7 linked regions of the Homo sapiens genome follow. The protein of the gene in region 7 purifies or fractionates together with the protein of the main gene of each other region. This does not show direct contact. Each region holds a gene or a part of one and is shown on either strand. Other genes may lie near its edges.

The links.
Region 1: the proteins of CDC14A (region 7) and BMS1 purify together in Homo sapiens (affinity purification with mass spectrometry, with the first as the bait; one large-scale study listed by BioGRID). This does not show direct contact.
Region 2: the proteins of CDC14A (region 7) and LUZP1 purify together in Homo sapiens (affinity purification with mass spectrometry, with the first as the bait; one large-scale study listed by BioGRID). This does not show direct contact.
Region 3: the proteins of CDC14A (region 7) and MAP7D1 purify together in Homo sapiens (affinity purification with mass spectrometry, with the first as the bait; one large-scale study listed by BioGRID). This does not show direct contact.
Region 4: the proteins of CDC14A (region 7) and POLDIP3 purify together in Homo sapiens (affinity purification with mass spectrometry, with the first as the bait; one large-scale study listed by BioGRID). This does not show direct contact.
Region 5: the proteins of CDC14A (region 7) and RBM26 purify together in Homo sapiens (affinity purification with mass spectrometry, with the first as the bait; one large-scale study listed by BioGRID). This does not show direct contact.
Region 6: the proteins of CDC14A (region 7) and IFT172 purify together in Homo sapiens (affinity purification with mass spectrometry, with the first as the bait; one large-scale study listed by BioGRID). This does not show direct contact.

What each region holds. Positions count from the first base shown.
Region 1 is NC_000010.11:42,796,114-42,800,140, reverse strand, and holds part of BMS1 (ribosome biogenesis protein BMS1 homolog), read right to left. Parts: intron 3,668-4,027; coding exon 2,910-3,667; intron 2,720-2,909; coding exon 2,618-2,719; intron 1,674-2,617; coding exon 1,516-1,673; intron 1-1,515. UniProt on the Homo sapiens protein: GTPase required for the synthesis of 40S ribosomal subunits and for processing of pre-ribosomal RNA (pre-rRNA) at sites A0, A1, and A2.
Region 2 is NC_000001.11:23,162,252-23,166,278, forward strand, and holds part of LUZP1 (leucine zipper protein 1), read right to left. Parts: intron 1-4,027.
Region 3 is NC_000001.11:36,172,925-36,176,951, reverse strand, and holds part of MAP7D1 (MAP7 domain-containing protein 1), read right to left. Parts: intron 3,589-4,027; coding exon 3,474-3,588; intron 2,055-3,473; coding exon 1,944-2,054; intron 754-1,943; coding exon 371-753; intron 256-370; coding exon 110-255; intron 1-109. UniProt on the Homo sapiens protein: Microtubule-stabilizing protein involved in the control of cell motility and neurite outgrowth. Facilitate microtubule stabilization through the maintenance of acetylated stable microtubules.
Region 4 is NC_000022.11:42,597,760-42,601,786, forward strand, and holds part of POLDIP3 (polymerase delta-interacting protein 3), read right to left. Parts: intron 2,035-4,027; coding exon 1,939-2,034; intron 1-1,938. UniProt on the Homo sapiens protein: Is involved in regulation of translation. Is preferentially associated with CBC-bound spliced mRNA-protein complexes during the pioneer round of mRNA translation. Contributes to enhanced translational efficiency of spliced over nonspliced mRNAs.
Region 5 is NC_000013.11:79,395,825-79,399,851, reverse strand, and holds part of RBM26 (RNA-binding protein 26), read left to right. Parts: intron 1-4,027. UniProt on the Homo sapiens protein: May be involved in the turnover of nuclear polyadenylated (pA+) RNA.
Region 6 is NC_000002.12:27,483,244-27,487,270, forward strand, and holds part of IFT172 (intraflagellar transport protein 172 homolog), read right to left. Parts: intron 3,000-4,027; exon of another isoform or gene 2,916-2,999; intron 2,261-2,915; coding exon 2,117-2,260; intron 1,888-2,116; coding exon 1,775-1,887; intron 1,024-1,774; coding exon 984-1,023; intron 924-983; exon of another isoform or gene 785-923; intron 695-784; coding exon 629-694; intron 417-628; coding exon 337-416; intron 134-336; coding exon 46-133; intron 1-45. UniProt on the Homo sapiens protein: Required for the maintenance and formation of cilia. Plays an indirect role in hedgehog (Hh) signaling, cilia being required for all activity of the hedgehog pathway.
Region 7 is NC_000001.11:100,516,098-100,520,896, reverse strand, and holds the end of CDC14A (dual specificity protein phosphatase CDC14A), read right to left. Parts: intron 2,647-4,799; coding exon 2,617-2,646; 3' UTR 620-2,616; downstream 1-619. UniProt on the Homo sapiens protein: Dual-specificity phosphatase. Required for centrosome separation and productive cytokinesis during cell division. Dephosphorylates SIRT2 around early anaphase.

The sequences.
Region 1 (4,027 bases), on a different chromosome or scaffold from region 7:
GTCTCATTAGCCACATTTAAAGAGCTCAGTAGCCACAAGTAGCCACAACCCACAGCTCAGATATACATTCCTTTCATTACAGAAGTTCTATTGGTATTGCTCCATACCCATTCACAGGAAATACAGGAGGGCCTGGGAAACTCCAGAGGGATGCAAAGCAATCCACAAAATCCAGAATACAAGAAACTCTACAGACCAAAGACTTGGTTTATTAAATAAAATGTAACCAAAGAAAGAAATGGGAAGGAAAGACTGTTGACTAAAAATGTTAAAAGATAGACTGAAAAACAGTAATGAAGACCAAGTAAAAGTAAACTATGATGCTTATGGAAGCATGGAGGAGGAAACCAGGAAGAAAAGGAAAGCATCACCTTAAGAGGCTGGACTACACCTCCTTCTACAGGGAGGAAGGGGACTGTGGCTGGTGTCACAATTGAGCAGCAAAGCTTGATTTCCCAGCCTGAGTGCTGAGTACAGGGATATTCACCTTCTGGCAACCCATTAGGCTGAACAATTGTTTTTACGTGGTTTTATATATCTGTATTAAATTTCACCATAAAAAAATGGTTAAATAAAATCTCATAAAGTACATTAAGTGTTATCTGGCGAATTACAATAGACAGTATGATAGCAATTGGGCCTCTGTGAGAAGTGACATCTAAGCCAAACTGAATTGACAAAAAGAAAGCAGCCTTTGGAAAATCAGAACATTCCAGAAGAGAATAGAGAGAAAGGGGCTGGCGCGATGGCTCACTCCTGTAATCCCAGCACTCTGGGAAGTTCCAAGGCAGGAAGATCATTCGAACCCAGAGTTCGAAACTAGCTCAACATGGTGAAACATTATCTCTACAAAAAATGCAAAAATTAGCCAGGCCTGGTGGCTCGTGCCTATAGTCCCAGCTACTCTGGAGGCTGAGGTGGGAGGATCCCTTGAGCCCAGGAGGTCGTGGCTGCATTGAGCCATACACTTGTGCCACTACACTCCAGCCTGGGCTGCAGAGAAAGACCATATCTTAAAGAGAGAGAGAGAGAAAGAGAAGAGGTCTAAGAGGAGGGTAAGCTGTGGTGAGTTTGAGTACTGAATGAATTCCAGTGTGACTACAAAATGGTAAGCTGCAGGAAGAACATATACAGGTATCACAGATTTCTCTATGCTTACAAATAGCAGAAACTATAAATGTTAACTCAGGGATGCTACATATATCCTAGTGATAAGACACAAAATACATCTGATGTATAAAAACTTATGTGTGATGTTTCAAAATAAAGATGCACACTACTGTCCACACTGAAAGCTGAACCTGTCCTCTGTGGGCCATGTACATGGTCTAACTAAACTCAGAACATGTTACTGCTTAGGATGCATGAAGCGCCCACTACAATATCTGGGAGAATGACCTGTAATCCTGTAAAAATAAGAAGCCAACAACAGGTAAGCAATATTGACATCAGATAATCTTATTCTAGAACAATTCGCTAATTCTCTAATAAATCAAATGTACTACCCAGACTTACCTCCTCTAAATCCCAGTCATGGGGGGCCTCCACAAGAAATCTGGAGCAGTCCAAAGAGTCAGCCTTGTGCTTACACTCTCTGTCAGGCTGGTTGACACGAAACAACCCTCCAAGCTCTTCTAGAGTATCATCATCTTCTTCTTCATTATCTTCTGTCACTAAAGAGCACACCATGGCAGAAAAGTGAGAACAAAAATTACAGCCCTAGAGGACTCATCATTTTCAACCAGTTAGGCCATGAGTCTTTGAACTCAGGAACTGAGGGACTCTGTCTGTGGTGGGTATGGCAATGGCCACATAAGAGTTAGGCATTGAGAGGGCAGGGCAGCCACAGATGAAGAGAGCCAGGAAGCTATTGCTCTACATGTGTGGGGCTCCTGTGCTCCTGCACGGGAGCAGCTAAGAGGCCGAGGAGTGAGAATATTAGCGGTGAAGGGAGGGAAGGGAATTTAAAGGCAGAGCTTTAGATTATTAAAGAAGAGCTCTAAAGAGTGTTGAGCCTCTCATCACTAAGAGTACCTAGACAAAACCTGAATGAAAATCAGTATACAACAACCTTCCCAATTCAGTGGGCTGAGCCCAAATGTCTCACCATGTGGCCTTGATCTCACCATGCAGTAACCAGGGAGCACAATGTAAAGTTCACCACTATATATTTATTTTTGCATTAATTCTACCAGAAAGAACATATTGGTAAGTTTAGTAAAGCATAAAATCAGAGGACAAGGGCAAAAGGGAGAACAAAATGTGTTATACAGGGTTCTCATTCTCAGAAAGGAAAAAAATAAATATTTTTATGGGCAGGAATATTTTTCTGGCACTAATCTACAAAAAAATTCTCATGAAGGACTTTTAAATAGGGGACATAACATGATGCAATGGACGGTATTTGCATCAAGTTTTACAGCAAACCCATAAGTCTACTTTATAAGACCAATGTGTGGTCCTCATAAGCTGATGATTAGAGACATCTGTCAAATATGAAATGTGATGGACAGCAATTATGGATGTCAACAATACCAGCCGAATCCTCCAACCAATTCCCTCATCTAAATAATCAGAGAAACTAAAACATTTCTAGTTCTGAACCAGAATTCTTTACCTGTCCCATAAATAAGCTTTCGGAGGTTTGGAGCTGCTTGCTGCTGCCTCAGAAAGGCCTCAGCTGCCTTTCTGGAAAGGTCTTCCTTCCACTTGAGGGCACCTGAAACGACCAATGCCAACCTCCAGTTAGGCTTATTCATGTGTCTCCCCTCCCTTGAGATCCATCCACAATGCAGCTTTTCAACAGTTAACAAAATCACAGAATCAACAGACCCCTAAATGTAGACATTCCTTTGGTTACCATTTCGAGAGCCAAGTTCATAGCAGCAACCAACTACATTTAAGCTTACCTGACGTTTCTTTGGAATCATTATTTTCTTCCTTGTAATCTTCTTCCTCTTTGAGTAAATTTTCTATATCACTGGTCTCATCAATGAAGTTCTGTGGCCCCAGTTTCTGACCACTGCTCACTTGAGAAGGCTTTGAAAGCTTTTTTCTAATAGCCTCTTCATTTTCTGAGTCTTCTTCCTCTGCACTGAGTGAGGAGCTTTCTTCAGATTCATCTTCAGATGCAAACACCTCTTCAGCTGTGCAATGCCCAGAATCGAAAGTGGGGAGAGCTGCTTTCTTCATCAGCAAAGACTTCTCCAGATTCACACGGTCACTCTGGCAATTAGCTGGTGACAGCCCTGCTTTACTACCTTCTCCAGCAGCCTTTGATCCTGAAATGCCCTTCTCTCCTGCAGTGCAGTCCTCTTCTTCACTGCTTTCATCAGCTTCCTCCGCTTCCCCTTCTTCCGCTGAGCTCCTCTCAAGGTCATCGTCACTGTCAGCAAATGCTGGCAAATCCATTTCACTGTCTTCTTCCAACTCAAGTTTCCGTCGTTTGATGCCCTTAACAGCCATATACTGATCAGTCATCTCAGCATTTTCCTCCTCTTCTGCTTCCTCATCACTAGAGCCGTTTTCCAACCCGTCATCTTCAGACATTTCATCATCTTCTTCATCATCACTATCTCCAGATTCATCTTCATCTCCGAAAATGGCTTTCCGACGCATTCGACCAGTGTTCAAGTCCATTTGTTTTTCCTCCTTTGGCATCATTAGCCTGTATTACCAAGGAAATACAAAATAATTCAATTTGTACATTAATCAGCTAATCTAGAAATGGCAATATAGTCAATGAAAATACAAAGAAATAGAAAATGTCAAGGAATTGTTTAAGATGACATAGCATAGGGAAAATATGATTTGATAAACATTGGAAGAGTTAAGAAGCAAACTCGGGCATGGTTCCCTAACACCACACTTCAAAAGAACTTATAGAGAGAATAAAGGAATAACCCTTAAAAAACAAAAATCTAATTTTAGAAAAAAATTGCTCAAAAGAGAAGTTACTGTTTTGTAGATCTTTTGGAAAGCTGATTAATTTCTAAGCTAAAAACACATGATCCTTAAGAGAAATGGG
Region 2 (4,027 bases), about 77 Mb from region 7:
AACTGAAAGGGAACTGGATAGGGGCTTCTAGGTACTGGTAACGCTGTTTCTTGATCTAGATCTAGGTGCTGCTTACATGGGTATATTCAGTTTGTGGGAAAAAAACATCAAATTCCACTTTTACATGCATTTTTCTGTATATGTATTATATACTTCAATCATAAAGTTTTTAATAACGTAATATACTTTTATTTTTTTTTTTTTTGAGACGGAGTCTCGCTCTGTTGCCCAGGCTGGAGTGCAGTGGCGTGATCTCGGCTCACTGCAAGCTCTGCCTCCTGGGTTCTCGCCATTCTCCTGCCTCAGCCTCCCGAGTAGCTGGGACTACAGGTGCCTGCCACCATGCCTGGCTAATTTTTTGTATTTTTAGTAGCCACGGGGTTTCACCATGTTAGCCCAGCCCATAATACATTTTTAAAATACTATTTTGTCCAGATAAAAACAGGAATAGAGTGCTCACTTCCACAACACAAATACTAAAATTGGAATGGTACAGGGAAGATTAGTATGTGCCCTGCACAAGGATGACATGCTAATTCATAAAGCAGTCCATATTTTTAAATTTTTTTGTAAAAATAAAGAAACAAACGGTATAAAGGGGCACATGCAAATACGGCAGGTCTTGAATGAAAGATTACCCGGGTAGAAGCTTTCAGAGGAGTAATTCAAACAGCCAGTGATACAAAGTACCATGTTAATAAAGAATAAGGCTGGGTGCGGTGGCTCACACCTGTAATCCCAGCACTTTTGGAGGCCGAGGCAGGCGGATCACGAGGTCAGCAGCTCGAGACCAGCCTGGCCAACATGGTAAAACCCTGTCTCTACTAAAAATACAAAAATTAGCTGGGTGTAGTGGCAGGCACCTGTACTCCCAGCTACTTGGGAGGCTGAGGGAGAAGAATCGTTTGAACCCGGGAGGTGGAAGTTGCAATGAGCCGAGATCACACCACTTCACTCCAGCCTGGGTGACAGGGTGAGACTCTCTCAAAAAAAAAAAAAAAAAAAAAGCATGTTGGGGCCAGGTGCCACTCATGCTTGTAATCCCAACACTCTGGGAGGCCAAGGTGGGAGAATCGCTTGAGCCCAGGAGTTCAAGACCAGCCTGGGCAACAAAGCAAAACCCTATCTCTACAAAAAAAAAAAAAATGTTTCTTAATTAGCTGGGCATGGTGGTGCACACTTGTAGTCCCAGCTAATCGGAGGCTGAGGAAGGAGAACTGCCTAAGCCCAGGAGTTCAAGGCTGCTGTGAGCTATGACTGCCACTATACTCCAGATCGAGAGAAAGAGTGAGATCCCGTCTCTTAAAAAAAAAAAAAAAAAAAATGCTGAGTCTGGGAAGGAAGTTGTGCAATACTAAAGGATTAACTATCAATTCCTTAGAACATAAGGAGGAATCTCCAGAAATTAAGAAAGTCATAGATGACAACAGCAATGCCTAAAAAGGTTAGCAATGCTTGTCATGTTGTGGCTCATATTTTAATATGGTATTTTCAAGCTCTTCCCTTGACCCTCCACTCCCATACAACTGAGAGTGTAATGACATAGACCCCAAACCTGAGCATCAATCATACCTGAGCTCGAATCAATGGTCTGCCCCTCACTTGCTCTGGCAGTTAACTGCTCTGAGCTCAGTTCCCTCATTTATAAAATAAGGATAATGACTACCTCATAGAGTTATTATTTTTTCAAAGGTGAACAGAGTAGTCACTTCTGCAGCACAAATACTAAAACTGGAATAATACAGAGAAGATTAGCATGTCCCCCGCTCAAGGAGGGAACACTATTATAGTCACCCCTTTGAGTAGATCTAAAGGGTTATTTTAATTATTATTTCCTAATGGTATACGGAGGACCAATGGTGGATTTAACAAGAATTCCTTTGCTTCGGGCAGAGCAAAAAAAAAAAGTTTCCATTCTCAGACAAATCCATGGGTGAGAGAAGGGCTTATAAAATAGTCACCGGCTGGGCGCGGTGGCTCACGCCTCTAATCCCAGCACTTTGGGAGGCCGAAGCGGGCGGATCACGAGGTCAGGAGATCGAGACCATCCTGGCTAACGCGGTGAAATGCCATCTCTACTAAAAATACAAAAAATTAGCCGGGCATGGTGGCGGGTGCCTGTAGTCCCAGCTACTCGGGAGGCTGAGGCAGAATGGCGTGAACCCGGGAGGCGGAGCTTGCAGTGAGCCAAGATCACACCACTGCACTTCAGCCTGGGTGACACAGTGAGACACCGTCTCAAAAAAAAAAAACACAGTCACCATACAGAAACAGAATGAATAAAGATAAAATCAAAAAATAAAGAGAAGGTAGAAATGGGGCTTCTTCTAGAAGCTCACTAGCACAGGTTCCAGGCATTTTCTAAGAGACAGAGACTTGAGCTAAAGCATACTGGGAGAAGTTCAGTGACTTGAGAAATTATGAAAAGGAAGAAACAATCTTCCCCGCAAGCCACAATTGCTACCTAATGTATTCTTCCCTTTGTGGAATATTACTTAAAACAAGTTAGAGATCAACACTAAGGATATTCTGTCATAGGTGGAAGGGCAAGGCCTTCAACCACTTTACACCATCCCCACCCTTAAGTATTATTTGAACAACCATAATTTGTTAAGCGCTTCTTAAGCACAGCCAAAGATGTTAAGTTTTATATTTCAGGAGCTACCATTTCAAAAGAAAAAAAATAAAAAGTTCAACTCCTTAAATCTTTTGGTAACTTTTTCCCCAAAATGTATCCTCTGTCTTAAAAGTAACTAAAATCTACTTCCTCCTGAATTTATTTATCTTTCCCCTAATCCAATAAATGTCTCTCCTTATTCTTCCTATTTACCTCACCATTAAATACCGAAGGTTTTCCTATTTCCTCCCAAGTTGGCACATTAACACTCTAATATTCATTCTGATCTCACAGTATTGAATCTGAGCATAGAAACCTCATAACATTCCCAGGGATAAATCTGCTACCCAATTCCTAAAAGATAACACACAGTTTAAAAAAATAAACACAGTGGTGGTAATTATACAACTGTATACATGTGTCAAAATTTGTCAAACTGTACACTTAAAATTGGTGAATTTTATTGTATGTAAATTATACCTCAATAAAGCTTTTTTTTTTTTTTTAAAGAATGCATTCCGGGCAGGGCATGATGGCTCATGCCTGTAATCTCAACACTTTGGGAGGCTGACATGGGAGGATCCCCTGAACCCAGGAGTTCCAGGAGACCAGCCTGGGAAACACAGGGAAACCTCATCTCTATAAATAAAAAAAAAAGTTAGCCAGGCATGGTGGCACACACCTGTGGTCCCAGCTTCTCAGAAGGCTGACGTGGGAAAATCACTTGAGCCCAGGCAGTAGAGGATGCAGTGAGACATCATCACAGCACTGCACTCCAAAAAAAAAGGGAATACATTCATTACATTCATTCATTCACTCATCAAATATTTGCTATGCATCTATTATATGCATCAAAGTTTATACCACATCTTTCAGCCTGGACTATCCGGGTCCTACCTGTAACAGCATGCTTTACTCATAAGTTGACACTGTCCCTAAAAGCTGTATTACATGAAAAATGATTCTGTTTCTGATAATGTTACCTTAATGATGGCCGCTTTACACTGGAAGGGCCATTAGCTATCCATCAACTTCCATTACATAAATGAAATATATGATCACTTAGGTACTCCCCATTTTAACAGAAATGCTTTCATCATAAGAAATAAGTAAGCACCTAGAGGCATATAGTACATACCACTACTACACTACTACAGCCTTATATGTTTGTCTTTTTACCAAAAAAAAAAAAAAAAAGAAAAGAAAAACAGCACACTTCAAGTGCATATTTACAACACTGCTGAAAGAAAAGGCAATACTATTGGAGAATAGACTTAAATGACTTATTCTAGGGCCCACAGTCACCCAGTGGCTGAGTCAAAGGCCAAAAAACTAGGTCTCATGATTCCCAAGGCAGTGGGCAAAGTAGAGAGACAACCACAGACCTGAGAAACAGACCTGGGTATGAAT
Region 3 (4,027 bases), about 64 Mb from region 7:
TCTGCCCTCAGGGAAGTTGCATTCTAGAGGTGGTTGCCCAACAAATATTTGTGGGTGATGAATAAATGACCCGGTGAGGGGCAGGGTCCCTCGCACCGCCCGCGCCCACCTGAGCTCAGAGGCGGTGCTGGCAGAGAGGCGGGCACGTGGGGAGGCGGGCAGCGACTGGCGCTTCTTGAGGCTGCGCTCCCGGGCTAGGGCACTCTTCTCCTTCTCGTTTTCCCGCTCCTTGTCCTTCTTCTCCTTTTTCTGCACCTGGCAGGGAAGGAGGAACGGAAGAGGAGAGTAGAGGTCAGCAGCGCCCGCGTACCCCAGTTCCAGGCTGCCTGTCCCCACCTGCGCGGCCACTCGAGCCAGTAGAGCCACTCACCGGCGAGGCCTCCGGCCGGCGGCGCACCGGAGCGGGGCTGCCCCCGGCGTTGGGCTTGCGGCGCTCCCCGCGCTCACCGGCGGGGGCGCAGCGGTGCACGCTTCGGGTGACGCTGCACGGCGTCAGGGGGCTGGCGGAGGCCGAGCGCGGGCACACCGGCACGGCTGCAGAGGGATGAGTGCGGTCGGGTTGCGGCCCGCGCGCCAGGCTGGCCCCTGCCCGGCCCCACGTGGGGCCTCTCCCAGGGTCGCAGCCCCTACCCTGGTCCCGGCCGTTGCGGGGCAGTGTGACCGCGCTGCGACTCCGAGCAAGGAAGGAGAGAGTGGGCGTCATCAGACGATCCACGATGCTGCTCTCCCATGCGCTCAGCTGCAGGCTGCGATCTGGGGGTAGAAGGCCAGGCGAAGCCGGTCACCGTGGGGGCCGTAGGAGGCAGGAAGAGGCAAGGGAGCAGACCAGGCACCATCCCCATGCCAAGGCCAAGGCTTCTCACCCGGGAGTCCTCTCCCCACAATCACACCGGGGCCACACTTGTCCTCCCTATGATCTGGACTTCCACTACAGACCCAGGCAACCAGACACTTCCCAGGGCAACATCCTGCATCGGATGAGGGTCCCCGCCTACAACGCTCCCCAGGTGAAGGGGCCCTGAACGGCGCATATAGGAAGGAGCCATCCAGGATTGGAAGAAAACCCAATTGCCCTCTGCCATGTCCCAGTGTAAGGTCTTGCCCCTCCTGCTGTCAGAGGGCTGACCCAGCCGAGGCTGTCCCATGGATTCAGGACAGTGAGGGTCCTTGTGCTCCTCTGACCCAGCTTTTAGCAGTCCTGTGCCAGGGAGAGGCTGCTAGGGTGCCTGCCTGCCCTAGGCCACCCTGCTCTGTCCCCTCAGCTGCTGGGCTATTTTTAAGCCTCAGTCAGGTGGGGTTGGTACAGCAGCTGATTTGGTTGCTAGGCAACAAAGCAGCCAAACAAATGCAAGAGAAACTTATAAATAACTCCCACCATGGCTCCTTCACATATGAGCACCAGGGCATGGTGGGAATGCAGGGGCTATGCCACCTTGGTTGGCTCAACTCTGGGACCAGCCAAGGCCATGACTGGGGCTCTGAAGACAGAGAGGGCAGGATTGCATGGGCCCTCTAGGGTGGAGCCAGAATGAGGGACCCCTCCACCCCACAGCACCCAGGCCAGTCTGACACATGGGGACAATGCCACCTGGCTAAGGTTGGCCCAGACCAGCTGGCTGTGGTTGCAGAAAAGGCTGCCTGCCTGTCCCCACCCCCAGCCACCACCTCCAACTTGCTCTTGAGGCTCCTGCCAGGCTTCCTGCCCTCTGCGGCATTGTGCTTTGTCTCTGTTCTCCTCTCCTACAGGGCAACCTCTGTCCTCAGGGTCCAGACCCATATGCCGGCTCCCCCGAGGGGCACAGAGCCCTGGGTAAGGTAGAGTGGGGATGGGGACCTGGAGTATGTGAGGGCTCCAGGGACCTGGTGTTCTTGCTGAGCTCTGGAGGAGGCTTGGTGGGAGCTACAAGGGGCTCTGGAGGGGGAAGGGCTGGGCCTTCTCTTACTTCTACTGGGGGAGTTCCAGAGCGTGGCAGAGGACTTTGAGAGCCGCTTGTTGATTATAGAGTCCACGTGTTTGGGCAGGTTAACTGCCGACACGGAGCACCTGCTCCCACCTGGAGGGGGAAAAGACACGGCATTAGGGCCGGGCCCGGCAGGAGCCAGTGGGGGGCACCGAGGCCTTCCATGCAGGATGCTCCGAGGGCGGGGTGGGAGAGGGAGGAGTGGGCAGGCTAGGATGAGGAGCAGGAGGCAGCCTTGGCCCTGGGAGAGGGAGGGTGGGGGGGTAGGTGACCAGAGACAACCTGGGTTGGGGGAGCCGACGGAGAAGGAACAAAGGGAGGAGATGAGTAAAACTAGAGAAACTACAGCTTTCCTGGCCAGACCAAGGAAGCCATTCCTTACGGCTGAGTACTGCAACCCCTCCCCATAACCACCCAGCATTAGCACTTGCTGACACTGCCCAGCCAAGACGTTTGGATACAACACCCCCGTACTGGGATAAATGCAAAAACCCTCCTAAACAGGACCTACACAGTCACAGTCACTTGCACAAATCCACGTGTTCATCCAGAATCACAAAAAGACATGCAGACACAGGCATATAGAGTGGCAGATACTTCGGCATGCACACATGTGTGCAGACATGCACAGGGACAGAGACACAAACACTAACAGATAGTGTGTCAGACCCAGATGCACACAAGCCACAAACAGATCGAAGCAACCTCATCATGACATTTGTAGCAGCTCACATTTGTTGATGCTTACCATGTGCCAGGTACTGTGTGGGGCACCACACACATGTGACCTCATTTGATCCTTCAAACATCTATCTACCACCTCAGGGGCAAGTAGTATCACTATCCCCAGTTTATAGATGAAGAAAGTGAGACTTCGAGAAGTTAAAGGTTACGCTGCAAGTGCCAGAGCTGGAACCCAAGTCTGTCTGACTTAGGAGCCCTCACTGAGGTACACAAGGTCACAAACACGCCAAGGCAAACACATATTAAGACACACAATGCACGGGTCCAGGAGCACATAAACAGAAGATACACAGCTAGAAATACTGAAACTTGCCATTGCATAAAGACATCCAAGCACAGTGGTACATACATGCCAGCAAAGAATCAGACCAAAATCCATGGTGGCCCTACGCGGAGAAAACTCAGAGACAAAAATCTACCTTCCGAGACAAGGAGTGACAGTTTCTTTAAGATCCAGTGTCTGTAGGTCATTAAAGTCTTTTATGTATCAACAACTAATAATAATTGACAGGCGCAAAGAAGGCTAATCCTAAAATGACAGAGGTTTGAAGAGCAAACCAAATGGAGAGAATCCATCTCTGATTTGATAGTGGAAGTCCTTGGGAAGGGACAGTTTGGCTTACAGACCATTCTAGAAGACACAAGTCACATAAAGCAAGGCACACCTGCTGCAGGGAGCCACCAGCTTTTTGTAGGGAAGTTGTTCCCTTCCCTTACTTGCCATCCCAGCCTTGCCCACCCACTCCCCAGCCCCTCCAGCCTACTCACTGGTCTTATGTCCTGGAGAGCTGTGGTGCAGGGCCCCTGCCCAGGACCAGCGCTGCTGCCGGATTTCGGCCCACGTCTTCTTCACTGACCGTTGGATGGCTGCTTCATAGCGCTCCTGGGGGAAGGTGGGGAGAAGAGAGAGATGTGGACTCAGAACATTCATCGAATTTGGGATAGAGGCCCTTCTTCCTCCTGTGACAATGCCTCCCCCACTCCCTTCCCTTGGAGTCTTTTCCTGACTCATTGCAGGTAACCAAGGTTACCAAATCCTTGCTATGATTAAGGACCAAGATCCCTTTCAACTTGTTCTTGGGGAGCTTTTCACTGTTCCTGAGTCATTTCCTGAGTGCATGAGTTGATTCTCTGAGGATTGGGTGGACTCCCCCTACCTGGGGCTCCCAGGCAAGGCCACATCTCAGGCACTGAGGGTCCTGACCTTGGGGCTATGTGTTCCCTCTAGCCTGAGGCCCTCCCAGGTAGGGCCAGGTGGCCATTTCCTTCATTTCCTCACCAGCACTCAAGCTAGGGCTTTACCCATGTCACAGAGCTAGGCA
Region 4 (4,027 bases), on a different chromosome or scaffold from region 7:
ATCATTCAGCTTCACGACCTCTTTTTTTTTTTTTTTTTTGAGACGGAGTCTCGCCCTGTCACCCAGGCTGGAGTGCAGTGGCGCAATCTTGGCTCACTGCAACCTCCACCTCGGGGTTCAAACAATTCTCCTGCCTCAGCCTCCCGAGCAGCTGGGATTACAGGCACGCGCCATCATGCCCAGCTAATTTTTTATTTTTAGTAGAGACGGGATTTCACCATGTTGCCAAGCTGGTCTCCAACTCCTGACCTCAGGTAATCTGCCCACCTCAGCCTCCCAAAGTGCTGGGATTACAGGCGTGAGCCACCACGCCGAGCCAGCTTCATGTTTCTTTTTTTTTTGAGACAGAGTCTCACTCTGTCGCCCAGGCTGGAGTGCAGTGGCACAATCTCGGCTCACTGTAAGCTCTGCCTCCCAGGTTCACACCATTCTCCTGCCTCAGCCTCCCGAGTAGCTGGGACTGCAGGTGCCCGCCACCACACCCCGGATATTTTTTTTTTTTTTTTTTTTGAGACAGAGTCTCGCTCTGTCGCCCAGGCTGGAGTGCAGTGGCGCCTCTTGGCTCACTGCAAGCTCCACCTCCTGGGTTCGTGCCATTCTCCTGCCTCAGCCTCTAGAGTAGCTGGGACTACAGGCGCACACCACCACGCCTGGCTAATTTTTTGGTATTTTTAGTAGAGACGGGGTTTCACCATGTTTGCCAGGATGGTCTCGATCTCCTGACTTCGTGATCCACCCACCTCGGCCTCCGAAAGTGCTGGGATTACAGGCGTGAGCCACCACGCCCGAACTTTTTTGTATTTTTTAGTAGAGACGTGGTTTCACCGTGCTAGCCAGGATGGTTTCCATCTCCTGACCTTGTGATCTGCCCGCCTCTGCCTCCCAAAGTGTTGAGATTACAGGCGTGAGCCACCGCACCTGGCCCATATTTCTCTTAATTACTAACCAGGAGGCTGGTCCACATACTCAGGACAGTAACCAAAACTGAGTCTTTGAGCGTCTGAAGGAAAAACAAAAGAGGTGGCTGCCACAAGGACCCACCTAGGCAGCCCACTGGCCTCCCTGTCTGACACTTGGCTGTACCACTGAGCTGAGCAGCATGGACCTCCCTGATGATCCCAGATGTTGTTTTCTTTCCTTCTCTGCATGATGTCTGACCAACACTCTAGCCTAGCAAGCTTTCCCTGCATGCAGGCTGCACCTGGTAGAGCCCACAGATCAGGTGAGATGTATTCCTGCTAATGTTAACCAACGGAATCCAGACTCCAAGAGCAGCGCCAGAGCTGCTGACCACAAAGGGTTACGAAGCATGCAGAATGGCCAGCCACCAAGGAAAGAACACAGACTCCCCACTGTGGGATCACTCACACTTTCCCTATAGTGTCTCAAACACAGCACCTAGGAGCTGCAGCCCTGTACTTCACTTGCTGTGGGACCTTGAACAAATCAGAAGGCACCCCAGTGTCTCAGCGTTTATAAAACTAAGGGAATGGACTAGTTCCAGCTCTGAAAATCTTACGGCCCAAACAAAGAAATATTTCTGCATTGAAAGGCTCTATTCACGCCGGGCGCAGTGGCTTACGCCTGTAATCCCAGCACCTTGGGAGGCCGAGGCGTGCGGATCACCTGAGGTCAGGAGTTTGAGACCAGCCTGGCCAACATGGTGAAACCTCATCTCTACTAAAAATACAAAAATTAGCTGGGCGTGGCGGCAGGCGCCTGTAATCCCAGCTACTAGGGAGGCTGAGGCAGGATAATAGCTTGAACCCAGGAGACGGAGGTTGCAGTGAGCCAAGATTGCGCCATTGCACTCCAGCAGCCTGGGGGAGAAGAGCGAGATGTCGTCTCAAAACAAAAAAAACAACAGGTTCTATTCAACACGACCTCTCCCACCTGCCTGATCAGACACGCAGTGTAAGAAAACATGAAATGCCATACCATGTGGTGGAGAAAGCCGCCTGAGGCTGCAAACTTCATCTGTTTAGTAGGAACGGAAGCTATACCATCATCATCTTCATCCAGGTCATATAAATTCTGAGAATATAACATAAAGAAATATAAGCAAATGTGGCATCTGGGCCCTCAACAGACATCTAGAACAGGCATGGCAAGGAAATGGCTGCTGGAGAAACAAAGGGACCAAGGAGAAGTGGGCACAGGGGTGACGGTGCCTGGAAAGACTGGGGCCCAAGTCTTCACAGGCTAACTCCCTGTCAGCAAGGACCCAGTGAAAGTCCTACAACTTCCAGATACATCAGAAGTCCCTTTTTCCCAGTGGGCAGTATGTACCAAGAGTCCCTAAAATGTTTCTTTATATCCTTTGGCTTGGAAAGTCCATCCTTGTTAATATGACCTACAGAAATAAATCCAAACCCTAGAAAGAGCTTTATTTACAAAGATGTTCACAGCAGAAGGATTTCTAACAGTGAAAATGACAGGAAAATGGTTTAAATAAAACTGGAATGCCAACTATATAGATTTTGCAGTTACTAAAACATGTACAGTAAATATGAAATGTCACAGAGAAATGCTTGAGTTACAAAGTGAAAAAAGAATGATACAAAATTGGATAAGAATATAACCATGGCTGGGCTCAGTGGCTCAAGCCTGTCATCCCAGCACTTTGGGAGGCCGAGGAGGGCGGATCACGAGGTCAGGAGATCGAGATCATCCTGGCTAACATGGTGAAACCCCGTCTCTACGAAAAATACAAACAATGAGCCGGGCATGGTGGCATGCGCCTGTAGTCCCAGCTACTCGGGAGGCTGAGGCAGGAGAATGGTGTGAACCCGGGAGGCGGAGCTTGCAGTGAGCCGAGATCGTGCCACTGCACTCCAGTCTGAGTGACAGAGCGAGACTCGGTCTCAAAAAAAAAAAAAGAATATATAACCACAACCACAACTATGAGTTAAGTAAAAAACAGACTGGGGCTGGGCACAGTGGCTCACGCCTGTAATCCCAGCACTTTGGGAGGCCAAGGTGGGCGAATTACCTGAGGTCAGGAGTTCGAGATCAGCCTGACCAACATGGAGAAACACCGTCTCTACTAAAAATACAAAATTAGCCAGGCGCGGTGACTCATGCTTGTAATCCCAGCTACTTGGGAGGCAGAGGCAGGAGGATCGATTGAACCCAGGAGTTCGAGACCAGCCTGGGCAACATGACAAGACTCCATCTCTACAAAAATTAGCCAGATGTGGTGGTATGCACCTGTGATCCCAGCTACTCAGGAGGCTGAGGTGGGAGGATCATTTGAGCCCAGAAACTCAAGGCTGCAGTGAGCCATGACTGCACCACTGCACTCCAGCCTGGGGGACAGAGTGAAACCCTGTATCAAAAAAAAAGAAGCGTACATGTAAGGAACTATGGCAAAATTTCAACAGTGACTGGCTTTGGAGAATAGGAACTTGAGGGACTTTTTGGCAAGTTTTCTATATTAAGCACATAGAACTTTTATTTAAAAAAATTAGGCCGGGCGCGGTGGCTCACACCTGTAATCCCAGCTCTCAGGGAGGCTAAGAGGCGGGAGGATAGCTTGAGCCCAGGAGTTCGAGACCTGCCTGGGCAATATAGCGAGACCCCGTTCTCCAGAAAAAGGAAAAAAAAACAAAACAAAAGACAAAAAAAAAAAAAGCGTAAAAAAATTAAAAAAAACAAACAAAACTTTTTTTAGCCTCTCTGCCCCCTATGCCTCCCTTCCTCTATTAAGAAGTTTCTTCTTGGCTGGGTGTGGTGGCTCACGCCTGTAATCCCAGCACTTTGGGAGGCTGAGGCGGGGGGATCACAAGGTCAAGAAATTGAGACCATCCTAGCCAACATGGTGAAACCCCATCTCTACTAAAAATACAAAAATTAGCTGGGTGTGGTGGTACGCGCCTGTAGTCCCAGATACTCAGGAGGCTGAGGCAGGAGAATCACTTGAACCCGGGAGGCAGAGGTTGCAGTGAGCCGAGATTACGCCACTGCACTCCAGCCTAGCGACAGAGCGAGACTCCGTCTCAAAAAATAAAAAAATAAAAAAAATTTC
Region 5 (4,027 bases), on a different chromosome or scaffold from region 7:
TCCAAATTATGCTGGCTTGAAATTTTTTGGCTTCTCCTTCCTCCCATTCACTTAGTCATGAGGTTCTCTCTTAATAATCCTTACTGACATTGCTTAGTAGGGGGCTCACACTCCGTATCTAAATGATTGCAGTTTGCTTCCTAACAAATCTGTTTTTATCTCTAGGCCTTTCTCCCTTCCAGTTCTTCTGACATGGATGCCCAGCCTTGTTTGTATCCCATTGCTTGATCAAAACCTTCAGCATTCCCAGATAATAAATTGCATACTTTTTAGCTTGCCTTTAAGAAAGCTAATGATTTGCTTTAAATTATCTTTTCCATTTATATCTTTCTACTTTTTATATGAGTCTTAATTTCAGCAAAGCTGAACTTTCGTGATTCACTGTCATTTTTTTTTATTGTTTCTTTTTTCTGAAACTTTACTGTTTCTTTTTTCTGAAGATTAGTAGTGGGCACCATTTATTGAGTGCTTACTATTAATATATGTTAATTGTTATACATTCATTGTGTGCAAGATAGGTGTTAGGAAGATGAATTAGCATACTTTATTCATAGCTAGTAAGTGATGGAGACAGGATCCAAAAGAAGACATTTTGATTCCAGAGCCTTGTTGTATTATGGTGTACTGTCTTTATATCCTTTCTTTGTGTTGAAGTCAAAGATCAAGTGTGATTCCAGTTCTTCCAGAAAGCTGCCTATGATCTATCCAGCTGGGTGAAGTGACTCCTCCCACCATGACTCCTCTCTCTCAGCACTGGTTTCAGTTGTCATGACACTCATCACTTGTACATTAAATTATTTAGTCGTGTTATTTTAGCTTTATTATTAGAGTCTCAGGCCCTTGAAAGCAGACTCCAGCTCTTAAGATTTAACTATGTTCCTGTTCATTATATACATTATCTAGCACAATGCTTTGTGTGTAGTATATACCTGATTATTAAATGCGTTAGTTGAAATTTCAAGTTTGTGTACCTAAAACCAAGGGAAGAGGCAATAATTTGGGTAAAACTATAGAATCTACCCAACTTCAGAACAGCAGATATGTGAGCTATTTGAAGATTAAGTAGTCTTTGGGTCTACTTCTTTCCATTTTTACTCCTAGCATCTTCAGTTTAGGTAAAGCTTAAGTTCAGATTTTTTTTTTCTTTGAGAGGGAAAGGTCATTGAAGTATATTAATATTTACTTGTTAAAGTATTATTGAATGTTGCTATGTGCAAGATTGCTGTCTCCATAGAGCTGCACATAAAAGAATTATAGTAATTCTAACCTGATGAATTTTATAGCTGGTAGAAGAGTTAATAGTCTATAATTATTGGTTAAAACATTTTTCTTTATTTCTTTATCCCCTTAACTTGTGATAAATTGACTTTCATAATCACATTTTGCTGCTGCAATCTTATTTGGCCTTTCCATCTGAATGCTGAGTGGTTAAAATGCATTTAGCACTTTTTTTCTGTATGTTTTAGCACTTCCTTATCTTTGGCTGACAGTGCTTCTCAAAATTATTTTACATGCTTAAACTGAGAGATAGGGACTGTATTATGAGCAAAATGTAAAATATTCCCATGTTAGTTATGTACATAACCTAAGCTTGAGAATGACTAACTGAAGCTTGAGCTAAATAGCTTGTAAGATTTTTTTCCCTCTTCTTGCTTCCTTTGTGCCAGAGAAAAGAATGAATGAGAGAAATGAATGAATGGTAAGCTGTTCCTACTAGACTTACTCATTACTCTCCTACTACTTTATTTCTGTGGAAAAAGTCTTTTCAATTTACATGCAGTAACTTTGAAATAGGTAAAAGTTTATTTTTAACTTAGGGTTTTATTAGTATCTTTTATGTGTGTATTAAATAATGGAGTAAGTTCAAGATCTGTTACTTAGTGATTCTTCTTGAGATATTTTACCTATGTAGAAGCATTTCTTTTGTTATTTTTTTCTGCGACATGTTTTACAAATGCTTTTAAAATTTTGATTTTCTGATTTTTATTGTTAGTATATAGAAATATATTTGTATATTGACGTTGAATTCTGAAATTTTACCAAGTGTACTTATTCTAGTAGCTATTTTATAGATTCTGTGGAATTTTCTTCTACCAATCTCATCATCTATGAGTAATGACAATTTTCTGATTTTTATACCTTCATTTCTTTTTTTTTTTTTTTTTTTTTTTGAGATGGAGTCTGGTTTGTTGCCCAGGCTGGATTGCAGTGGCGTGATCTCAGCTCACTGCAGCCTCCACCTCCCGGGTTCACGCGATTCTCCTGCCTCAGTCTTCCGAGTAACTGAGACTACAGGCACGTGCCACCACACCCGGCTAACTTTTTTTTTTCATTTTTAGTAGAGACGACAGGGTTTCATCGTGTTAGCCAGGATGGTCTCGATCTCCTGACCTCATGATCCGCCTGCCTCAACCTCCCAATATACCTTCATTTCTTATCATGCTGGCTAGAAGCAATAGTACAATGTTGAAGTAGTAAGAGTGGACGTCCATGTCTTGTTTCCAGTCTAAAGGGAAAGAGATTAAATGTTTCAGTATTACTGATATTGGCTCTAGGTTTTTAGTAACTGCCTTTTACCAGATTGAGAATTTTTTTCTTAATTTGCTTAATATTTTTGTCATAAAAGGTTATTGTTAACTTGGCTAACTTCTTATTTCTTTTTCTTTTTTTTGAGACAGAGTCTTATTCTCTCACCCAGGCTGGAGTGCAGTGGTGCAATCTCGACTCACTGCAACCTCCACCTCCCAGGTTCAAACGATTCTCAGGCCTCAGCCTCCTGAGTAGGTGGGACTACAGGCGTGCGCCACCACCCTTGGCTAATTTTTCGTATTTTTAGTAGAGGTGGGGTTTCACCATGTTGGCCAGGCTGGTCCTGAACTCCTGACCTCAGGTGATCTGCCTGCCTCAGCCTCCCAGTGCTAGGATTACTGGCATGAGCCATTGTGCCTGGCCAGTTCTTTTTCTCCATCTGTTGAGACGATCATACAGATTTTCCCGTTTTTTTGTTAATATGGTGTATTACATGGATTGCTTTTCAAATATTAAGCCAATCTTGTATTCCTGAGGTAAACCAGGCTTGGTCATGTTATATTATGGTAGATTTGATAATATTAAAACAAGTGGAAGTATTCTATCCTCCGTTTTTCTGAAAAAATTTATTTAGGGTTCTATTTTTTTTTCCTTAAAATTTTTGGGATCCTTCACCAGTGAAGCCATCTGGGACTGAAATTTTTGTTGTGAGGATTTTTTGGTTATAAAATCAATGTCTTTAATAGGTATAGGGCTGTGTAGGTATTTCTGTTTCTTCTTGTGTCACTCTTGACAATTTATGATATTCAAAGATTTTTCTGAAGTTGCCAAATTTATTGACATTGCATTGTAACCTTACTATTCGTTTAATAACTAGGATTTATTGTGATGCTTCCTTTCCCCTTTTTAATTATACCTTTGGTTGCTCTTTTATTTTCTTAATCAATTTTGCTATTAGTTTTTCAGTTTTATTCAGCTTATTAAAGAACAATGTTAACTTTTTTTTCTATTTTCTATTTCAGTGTTTTATTTTTATGATTCCCTTTTAAAACACTTTGGGTTTAATTTGCTGTCCTTTTCCTCTTAAAGTGGAACCTAGGTCGTTGGTTTTACACCTTTCTTTCAGTTATTTTATGATATTGTTCCATTGCCACCGTCCTCTGTTGTTTCTGGTGAGAAATCTGCTGTCATTTGAGTCTTTGTTCTCCTGAATGTAATGTGTCTGTTTTCCCCCTTTGACTACCTTTAAGATTCAATTCCTTTTATTTGGTCAGCAGTTTGACGATGATAGGCTTGTCTGTCTGTGTTTATGTGTTTTATCCTTAGATTTGCCAATTTGGATCTGTGTTTTGGGTCTTTCATCGGTTTTGGAAAGTTCATTGGTCACTATGTCTTCAAAATTTTTCTGCCCCATTTTTTTTTCCTCTTTTTCTGAGACTTTATATTTAGTTCCTTGTATGTTAGATTATATGATATTATCCTGAAAATCTCATGTATG
Region 6 (4,027 bases), on a different chromosome or scaffold from region 7:
TGGACTCAAGCAATCCAAGCCTCCCACAACATTCTTTATTCATACCTGTGACTCTCCAGAGCCTTCATCATCAAAGAAATACCTAACGATGGTACCATCTGCATGACCAGAGAGAATTCCTTTCCCAGAGCAACTAAAAAAGGAGAAAGGAGAGAAATACAGGAAGAGACTATTTTATCTCACCAAGAAAGCCCCTTTCTCTGTCAAACACAACCTTGTCTGTGCTTCCTGCTACCAGTTCTCCTGCCTTTCATACTATGGTCTTGCAGTCCAGACTTCCCCACAGCATTTTCCTAACACTTCCAGACTCTAGTGATACTACTCCTCTTTACTCACTTTGTTGTCAGGGACACCACGTAAGACTCTGTCCCATAGATGGTAGATGATTTATTAGTTTTGGTGTTTGCTAAACGAACCTGAAAATGGAAAAATTGATACAAGTATGGTTAGGCTATTTTATATTTAACTAGGCCCTAAGAAAAAAAGGAAAAACTGTCCCACAAAACTGGTCCCTATGCATTCTCCCCAGTACGCAACTTGATCCTAAGAAAGAGGATGAACCATATTCCTCTCTCCAGAACCATTATCCCTACCACCCCCTCTCTTGTGTTTCCCTTCCCTCTTTTACCTTCCCTTCAGCCAGTCCAAAGACAATGATGTATTCTGCCGGCCATTGCAGACAAGTGACAGCACTCTGCGTGGAAGGAAACAATGAAAAGGATAACCCCATCTGTGTGGGCCAGCACTTTTATAACAACTTCAACACCCCACCACACACCACCACCTCAATCTCCTATAGGGAAGGACACAGCAGGGCTCTAAGGAAGACAGCAGATGACCATGAACAGCCATGAAGCACCATCCTTGCAGTAGGAAAAGTCACATTCAGATGTTAGAAATGCAACTCCTGGCTGTATTTATAAGTAGATATACTGATATATGTTTGTTCATCCTAAGGTTCCAGGGACTGGTCTGAACTTTACCGTCTGGATGAACTTGTTGCAGATGACTTTCTTGTCACCCCTGCCAAACAAAAGAAGGGGAAACATATTAAAAACCACTTCCAGGCCGGGCGTGGTGGCTCATGCCTGTAATCCCAGCACTTTGGGAGGCCGAGGCGGGAGGATCATGAGGTCAGGAGATCGAGACCATCCTGGCTAACACAGTGAAACCCCGTCTCTACTAAAAATACAAAAAATTAGCCGGGTGTGGTGGTGGGCGCCTGTAGTCCCAGCTACTCGGGAGGCTGAGGCAGGAGAATTGCGTGAACCTGGGAGGAGGAGCTTGCAGTGAGCCACAATCGCGCCACTGCACTCCAGCCTGGGTGACAGAGTGAGACTCTATCTCAAAATAAATAAATAAATAAATACCACTTCCATAAACAAATTGCCAAAAATGATGCTGAGGGAAGAGAAGAAAGAGCAGATTTCTTCCCTGGCCCAGTAGTATTTCTGACTACTCTGTAGGAGCCCTGAAAGGAGGTATATGAGGGAGCCTAAGCAGCTTCAGAACAATAACAAAGATGTGACATCACTCTGGGCTTCCAGGATCTCACAGGGCCTCCTGTTGACCTTGGACTGTTTCCTCCAGGGATGGGATTGAAGAACACGTGGGACAGGTGAAGGCAGAAAAGCAAAAACAGACTCCAGAAAGTCTCTGCCTTCAATGGCCAAGCTTGGCTTCTCATCCCCTGTATTTCCCCTCCCCAGTGAGGCATTTCTCTTGCCTTCCCCTTCTTTCCTGGGCCATCCCATCTCCCAGTCTCTATCCTCACCAATCTTCTCCAATCTTGTAGACATAGATGATGTTGTCAGTCTGTCCTATGGCAATTTTAGTGGAATCAGGAGAAAAAGCCATGCCCTTCACCATATAGCTCTTCCTGCCATACTAAGAGTTTAAAAAAAAAAAAAGAAAGAAAAAGAAGTAATGAGTACACATGAAAGAGAAAAGAGAAAAAAAGGCATATGTGTGCTCCTAAGGGAGCTTGAGGATTTATACTGAGAAAAAGGTGGGGTATGCCATTTCCTATGCTGATGGCTAGAAGGCAGACTACGTCTTTCAAGTTGTGAGACCCCATCAATAGGTTAAATAAGGTACACATGAATACACTGTTTACCTTCATGTCAGCTGGTTTGGTGGAGAATTTATCTCTCCGTTCTCCATGTTCATCATACAGCAAGACCACTCGGTCCACTGTGCAGACAGCAAATTTGGCATTGTTCTGGGACCAAGCCATGCAGGTCACCTTTGCAGCTCCATCCTGTAGAGGCAAAGGGGTAAAAACAAACCCATGTGCTGGTCTAGAATGCCAAAAGCATTTCTAGCTTCATTAATTCTAGTGTAATACTGGTCAATTTTCTTCCTGTCACGGTTCTATCCTCAAAACAAAGAGATGCCTGTGGCCCATGCTGGTCTCCAAGGCCTTCAGATCCTGGACTGTGAGAACAACAGGCTTCTAGAGACTCATATGCAAATGCACTAAGAGGCAGGGTGCTAAGTCAACTGTATCAATGAATCCCTGCAACGGCCTCCTCGTTTCCAGGTCTGCTACTGAAATAAATTCAATTAGTCTGGTAAGTTTTGGTCATTAGCCATTCATTCAATTAATATTTTTTTAGCACCTTATTGATCAAGGCACTTGGCCAGGGGCTGAGAGAGAGACAAAAAGCAAACCATAGATCCTGCCTCCACGTCTAATAAGATGGTGCAAAATAGAAAAGTCCTATTAAAGTATGTATAAAGTACTACAATAGTTTGGAGAAGCCTGAGAGAATTTTATGCTTAAATTATCAAAATTAAGCTTTGAAGAATGAATGCAGTTGAGTAGGAAGTTATCTGAGATGGGAGGAATGGCAATGAGCAAAGGCAAATTCTGGACAAGAAACAGTAATTTAGTTTATTTGAAACTATTATACCTTATAAATAGTAGAATAGACGGGGTAAGGCAGGAAAAACAGGCCAGCTCAGGAAGTCTTTGAAGCCAGGCAAAGGAGTTTGGGCTTATTTGAAAGGAAAGGGAGAGACAGTGAGAGTTCAGGATGGGCGAGTACGAGTTGAGACTCAGGACGAATAATCCCACTTTCTTTTCTTCTTAACTACCCACTTCAGAGAAACCCAAGTTAGAAGTTATCTCCAGGTGAATTATTCTGACCAGATCTGACCCTTCCAACACTAGCTCTGGTCCTAAGGGACTAGCTCTGCTACTAAGGGTTTCCTTCCTTGAAAACAAAACATTTTATTCTGCTTTTCTTCTGCCCCAATTGTTTAATTATTTGGACACTAGAGTTCTGGCTTCAAACATTGACACTTTACACTCCAAACTCACCTATCTCCAAAGTCAGAAGTAAAAAGTCTATTTTCCTGCAAATCCTCAAACCAGAAAATAGCCACACCACCATCACTATGATCCTCTAACTCTTCATTATATTAGGTTAGAAGGCCTGAGGGCTCCTCATCAATCTTTGCTGATCCTCCTGCTTTATCGCTTTGCCCAATTCTGGGCATTCAGCCCTACCTGCATCATGACATCATCTTATTTTGAGAGACTGAAGGAGGATTTCATTTCCAATTTTTCCATTAGGGCGGAGAAATTTTTAAAGTACAGATTCAATGGACAGCTTGCTGAGCAATGAGCACAAATCTCTGTCTTTTTATTTTTTTCTCCAACTGAGGAGAGAGCACAACTATCTTTGTTCTAATTTCCTTCTTTTTTTTTTTTTGACGGAGTCTCACTCTGTCCCCCAGACTGGAGTGCAGTGTCACAATCTCAGTTCACTGCAACCTCTGTTTCTTGGGCTCAAGCGATTCTCCTGCCTCAGCCTCCCAAGTAGCTGAGGCTATAGGCGTGTGCTACCATGCCTGGCTAATTTTTTTATATTTTTGGTAGAGACATGGTTTCACCGTATTGCCCAGGCTGGTCTTGAACTCCTGACCTCAAGTGATCCACTCACCTTGGCCTCCTGAAGTGCTGGGATTACAGGCGTGAGCCACCACGCCCGGCCTGTGTTCTCATTTCCTCCTATTGTCC
Region 7 (4,799 bases):
TTCCAAATGTAAAACTACCTTCTCACCCACAAACTTTCCTTTGCATTCTAAAAAAAAAAAAAAAAAAAATTTAAGGAAAAAAAAACCTCAGAATCATCATAACCCAAAGAGATCCAGTTTACTATATAAAATATCTCCAATAAATAGTGTAGCTTCTTCCTCCCAAACTGACTTTTCAGGGCATAGATCCAACAGGTGTGAGGTTTCTTCTAACTGATTTCTATAATTTCTCATTTAGGAAAAATGGCATTCTTTTTCAAAAGGAACTGGTGATCAATCACACAATAGTCATCAGTAGTCATAAATGACTAAGCAGGACCCAAAACACTGATCAGGATCAGTATTTTATTGACAGTAAAAAAAATAAAGGGAAAGCAAGCAAGAACCTAACATTATATGATTTTTGTGAAATTCAAAGTATAAGGTTTCTGTGAGCTCACTGTCATGTATTTCAGGCAATGGCCACAACCTAGAAAGTCAATAAAAGCTAAACTAAAATCCAGAATAGAGATCTTGAAACACTCAAGGCACTGACCACACTGAACCAAAAATAAAATTATAAAGAGACTTCAGTACATTGATAACTCAAAAATTCAAATTATAAACACCAAAAAATAAGTAAATTGAATAAAACTTTTATTATTTATTAGCAGTGTATTCTTCTACACTTTAAAATAGAGCAAAATATCTTTTGGAAGATAAACTATTCATAACAAAATACATGTCAAACAATTTTTATTATCAGAGTAAAATTACTTTGCTATATACTTTCTATATTATATACATCCACTTCTTGGTGTGTCTATGTAGGCACATGTGTAAAGTAATTTTTAGACATATACATGTACATACATATGACACATATACACACATAATTATGGGAAATTTACAGTAGTCAACTTTACAATCATTTTAATAGCTTCACACAAATTAGTGTTCACAGAACTAAAACTGTCAACATGATTCCCTTTCCCCTACTTCTCAAATGTCATCTGAATTACTTTTTATGATAACTTGAAAAAAATACTGTCATCTTCCTATACAATTAACCAATTTTTATAATAACTCATAATAAAATATTTTACTTTTTTAACTTTAGAAAAGATACATAATTCCACTTATTTTAGTTTTTGATTCCTAAATCATACAATTCGTTTTTTTCATCAGTTGAGTGTAATTTTTGGTACTGCAGTTACTGAAGGTTAATTTAACAAACCTGAGTCAAACATTCATTCAAATGCCTTTTTTAAAAACATAAAACATGAACAAGATGTTTTGATGAAGCATATATAATAGACTCAAGGTACCCTCCCCTAATAAATACATTATAAATAACTCAATGGTTGGGAGTAAAGCACTTCATATGAATCCATTTAACTAGCACTTTCAGTGTCGAAGCAGTCCATTCTTAAGCAGCCTGGAAGGATATCAGGATGTAACGCTCCTCGATTCCTCATAGAAATGAAACCTACAGGCTTCTGAAGACCTAAATATCAGATCATACTTACATGAAAGGGCTGTGAGTACCTATAAGGGTCCTTTCATTTTCATAGTAGGTTCCAGATATGCTAGCGTGTGCAGCAGGGGGTTGTACCCTGTTTTAAAAATATCTCCTTTAATACAGAGAACTACTTAGCAGCATCTTTTTCAGTTTTTTCTCTCCATTGATTTAAAACTGATGTCAAACCATGTGTGATTACAGGCAACAACAACCTCATACCCAAAGCAGGATATCCTAATTGGGTTAAGAACTCTTTTGAAAGGAGGAAGGAAAAAAAAACATTTGGAATATTGAGTCATTTCATAGAGAAAAACCATGAAACCATGCTCTCAGAAGAAATATTCAGTGAATTCTGATCTTTCACTGCATGCTGTATTTTAAAGCCCCCCAGGATGCAAAACTAACTCAAATTGGCTCAGCAACAAAAACAATAGGAAAGGGAATTGTCCTAAATAAGCCATCCCATGCCATTATACTCTTGGTAGAGATAAACTTGGATAAACTCAGTGTAACTAAACTGACTTCCCAAAAGAATGAACTGACCTGCCATATTTATAGTGCGAGCATAAAAATCACTTTCTAAAAACTTTCTCCCTTACTTCTTCTTAATAAGAAGGAATTATTTATTCATTAGAGACAAAACCATACTAAAACTAAACAGATTTAAAATACAAATTTTTGGTAGCAAACAGCAGGAAAATCTAAATCAAAATATAGTGTAGTTTTTACATAATTTTATATATTTATAAATTTATCAAAATAGTCTTTTAAAGTTCACAATACATATATAATGTAACACTGTACATGTAAATATAATAATAAATGTATTACCAAAATACATTAAAAATAACCCTTCAAAATACCAAATTCAACATTAAAACTGTCTTTAAAAGTATGGAAATCTCCATAAACATAGTTTCAGTGCATTTATAGTAGTCATTAACCAGTTTTCTGTTTTCAAGTCTCTTGAAGGTGTTATCTTAGTGCTCTTTTTAATTTAAGGTAAGAAGGCAGAGATATTCTTCCAGCAAGAAGTTGCTTTCCCTCTCCACTGCTCGTCCAGATGAAGAAATTGTGTCTAAGAGAAGAACAGCTTTCACTGGAGTGGCAAGGCCTTAGTAATGAACATATTCAGACTGAAGGGACTGTGCAGGGAGAGACATAAACTGAGGTTAAATTCCATCACATGTAAAACTTCTAGCAAGTCATGCAGCTTCTCCCTTCCACACAAGACAGCTTAGAGATCAATGAAATAAACTAAGCCAAAACAGAAACAAAAAGACAGGAGACACAAAGCATTAGCTAGGTAAGAATGAGATATTCAATTACGCAAAGTGATTGTAAGAAAACTTTATATTTTAAAAGGTTTACTAATTTATTTATAGTGATTAAAAAATTAAGTTTTAATTTAAAAATCGGTAGGTAGCCTAAACTCATCTCTAAGCATTTCTACAATTAATGAGTTTTACTTAACAATATTAAAAGATACTTTTAACTAATTAAAGATTACTAGAATATACTTTGAGATGATATATCCTTAAATTTAATTCAGTACATATCAATGGCATGCTTCTAATGCAGTAGAATTAGCAGCCATTTAAATAAATTCCTTAAGCATGCTTGAATTTATAAATATCTTACACATCCTTTCCCTTAAGGGGAAATGAAGTACTACCAGCTTGAAATCTGATCTTAAGACCCAAAAACATTTATGCAGAAGAGTCTTGCTGTCGGAATTTAATAAACAATAGGCAATTTTCAAGTAAACCATACAAATTCTTCCACATCACATTAGATACTAACATATAAAAGGATTGTGATTGGGATATGTAATCAGAATGCCTGGGACAACAGACATAAACCAGGAAAAGATAGAGAGTTACAGAAAGTTTGCCAAACAGTTATTTTTTTTAGCAGGAAACAGTGATTAGAAAAAGGAACATAAATCAATCTAAACATTAACAAATTTTTTGCTCAATTCTTCCAATTAAATACCTGAGGATAACAAAGTTTACTTGATTTTCTAGTAAATGCCCTTTTCTCCCACCCAATAATTATTTCTCAAATTAGTCTGTAACATTTCATTAACAGGTCTAGTCAATTATAAGACAGGTCCATTTTGGTGATGATATAGGTTATCAGTAAAAAAGAATCTGTCCATTTTCCAAAGAACTTACAAAAGGATTCAAGCTATCTTTTCTCAGCTTCAAAACTGCAGTGAATTTTACACCCCATGAACAGCCAAATGGCTGTTCCTGAGTAAGTCCCTGTTAACACAGTATGTCAAAGAGTTATGGTCCCTGACCGCAAAGGGCGAAAGCCACAATGTCATAACAGATGTGAAATGAAAAGACAGCGGTGTCGACATTAAATAGTAATATACATAGTGTAAAGTTAACATCGTGCACCAGGAAAGGCTTAGGTGAGAGGTAGTAAGGGAAATGGGTGGTTCTCAAGGCTGCCAGTTTCAAGAGCTGTAGGAAGAATGGAAAAGGTTTGGCTATTGACTTTCTTGTATGTGGTTCATGCTAATACTTCAAAATAGGTGTGAGATGATCAAGAATCAGAGCACTATACTATAAATATACCTGAACCCACAGTGCGAATAAAAGAGGTAAGACCCTAAGAAAGTCCAGTGAAGTTGGTCAAAAGCCTTGAAGCCCATATACATTCCACTTGAGGGACGCCAGCTACCACACTCGCAATTAGAGCATAAACATTTTTCTACCTGCTTTTTCTCGGTTTCTTCTAAGTCTGGCAAGCAGTCAGAGGGCAGAGCCAGTTAAGTCCCCCAGCTATAAGAATGCCACAAAGGTATGTTGTGCGTGTATGTGTGTGTGTGTAGCTCAGCTAGTGCTTTCTTGAGAATATTTAACTTTTACTTTTGTTCCGATTAGTAAAGTTGTGCATGTTATCACTAACAGAAATCAGAAATTCTTCAAACTGCATATAACTTAGAACAAAGTTGTTTTTGCAAGCTCCATCAATTATCAATAAACAGAGATGTAGCAAATAAACATTAGACAAGCGACCTTTGTTAAACCAACTTTTTTATAGGGTAAAGTATTTCATATGTACATCAATATAGAGGGGCAAATATGTGTGTGTGCATATATTTATATATATAAACACACACATATATATATTCATTTATTTACATATTTATTTAGTGAATCACAGTACCCAGTGAACTGGAAAACAGAAATAGTCTAGAACATTTTAAAGATTTCTATTATTCATATGGAGAATATATTCATTAGTCTTCTATCCAAAGCCTTTACTTCCACAGAGCTCAAAA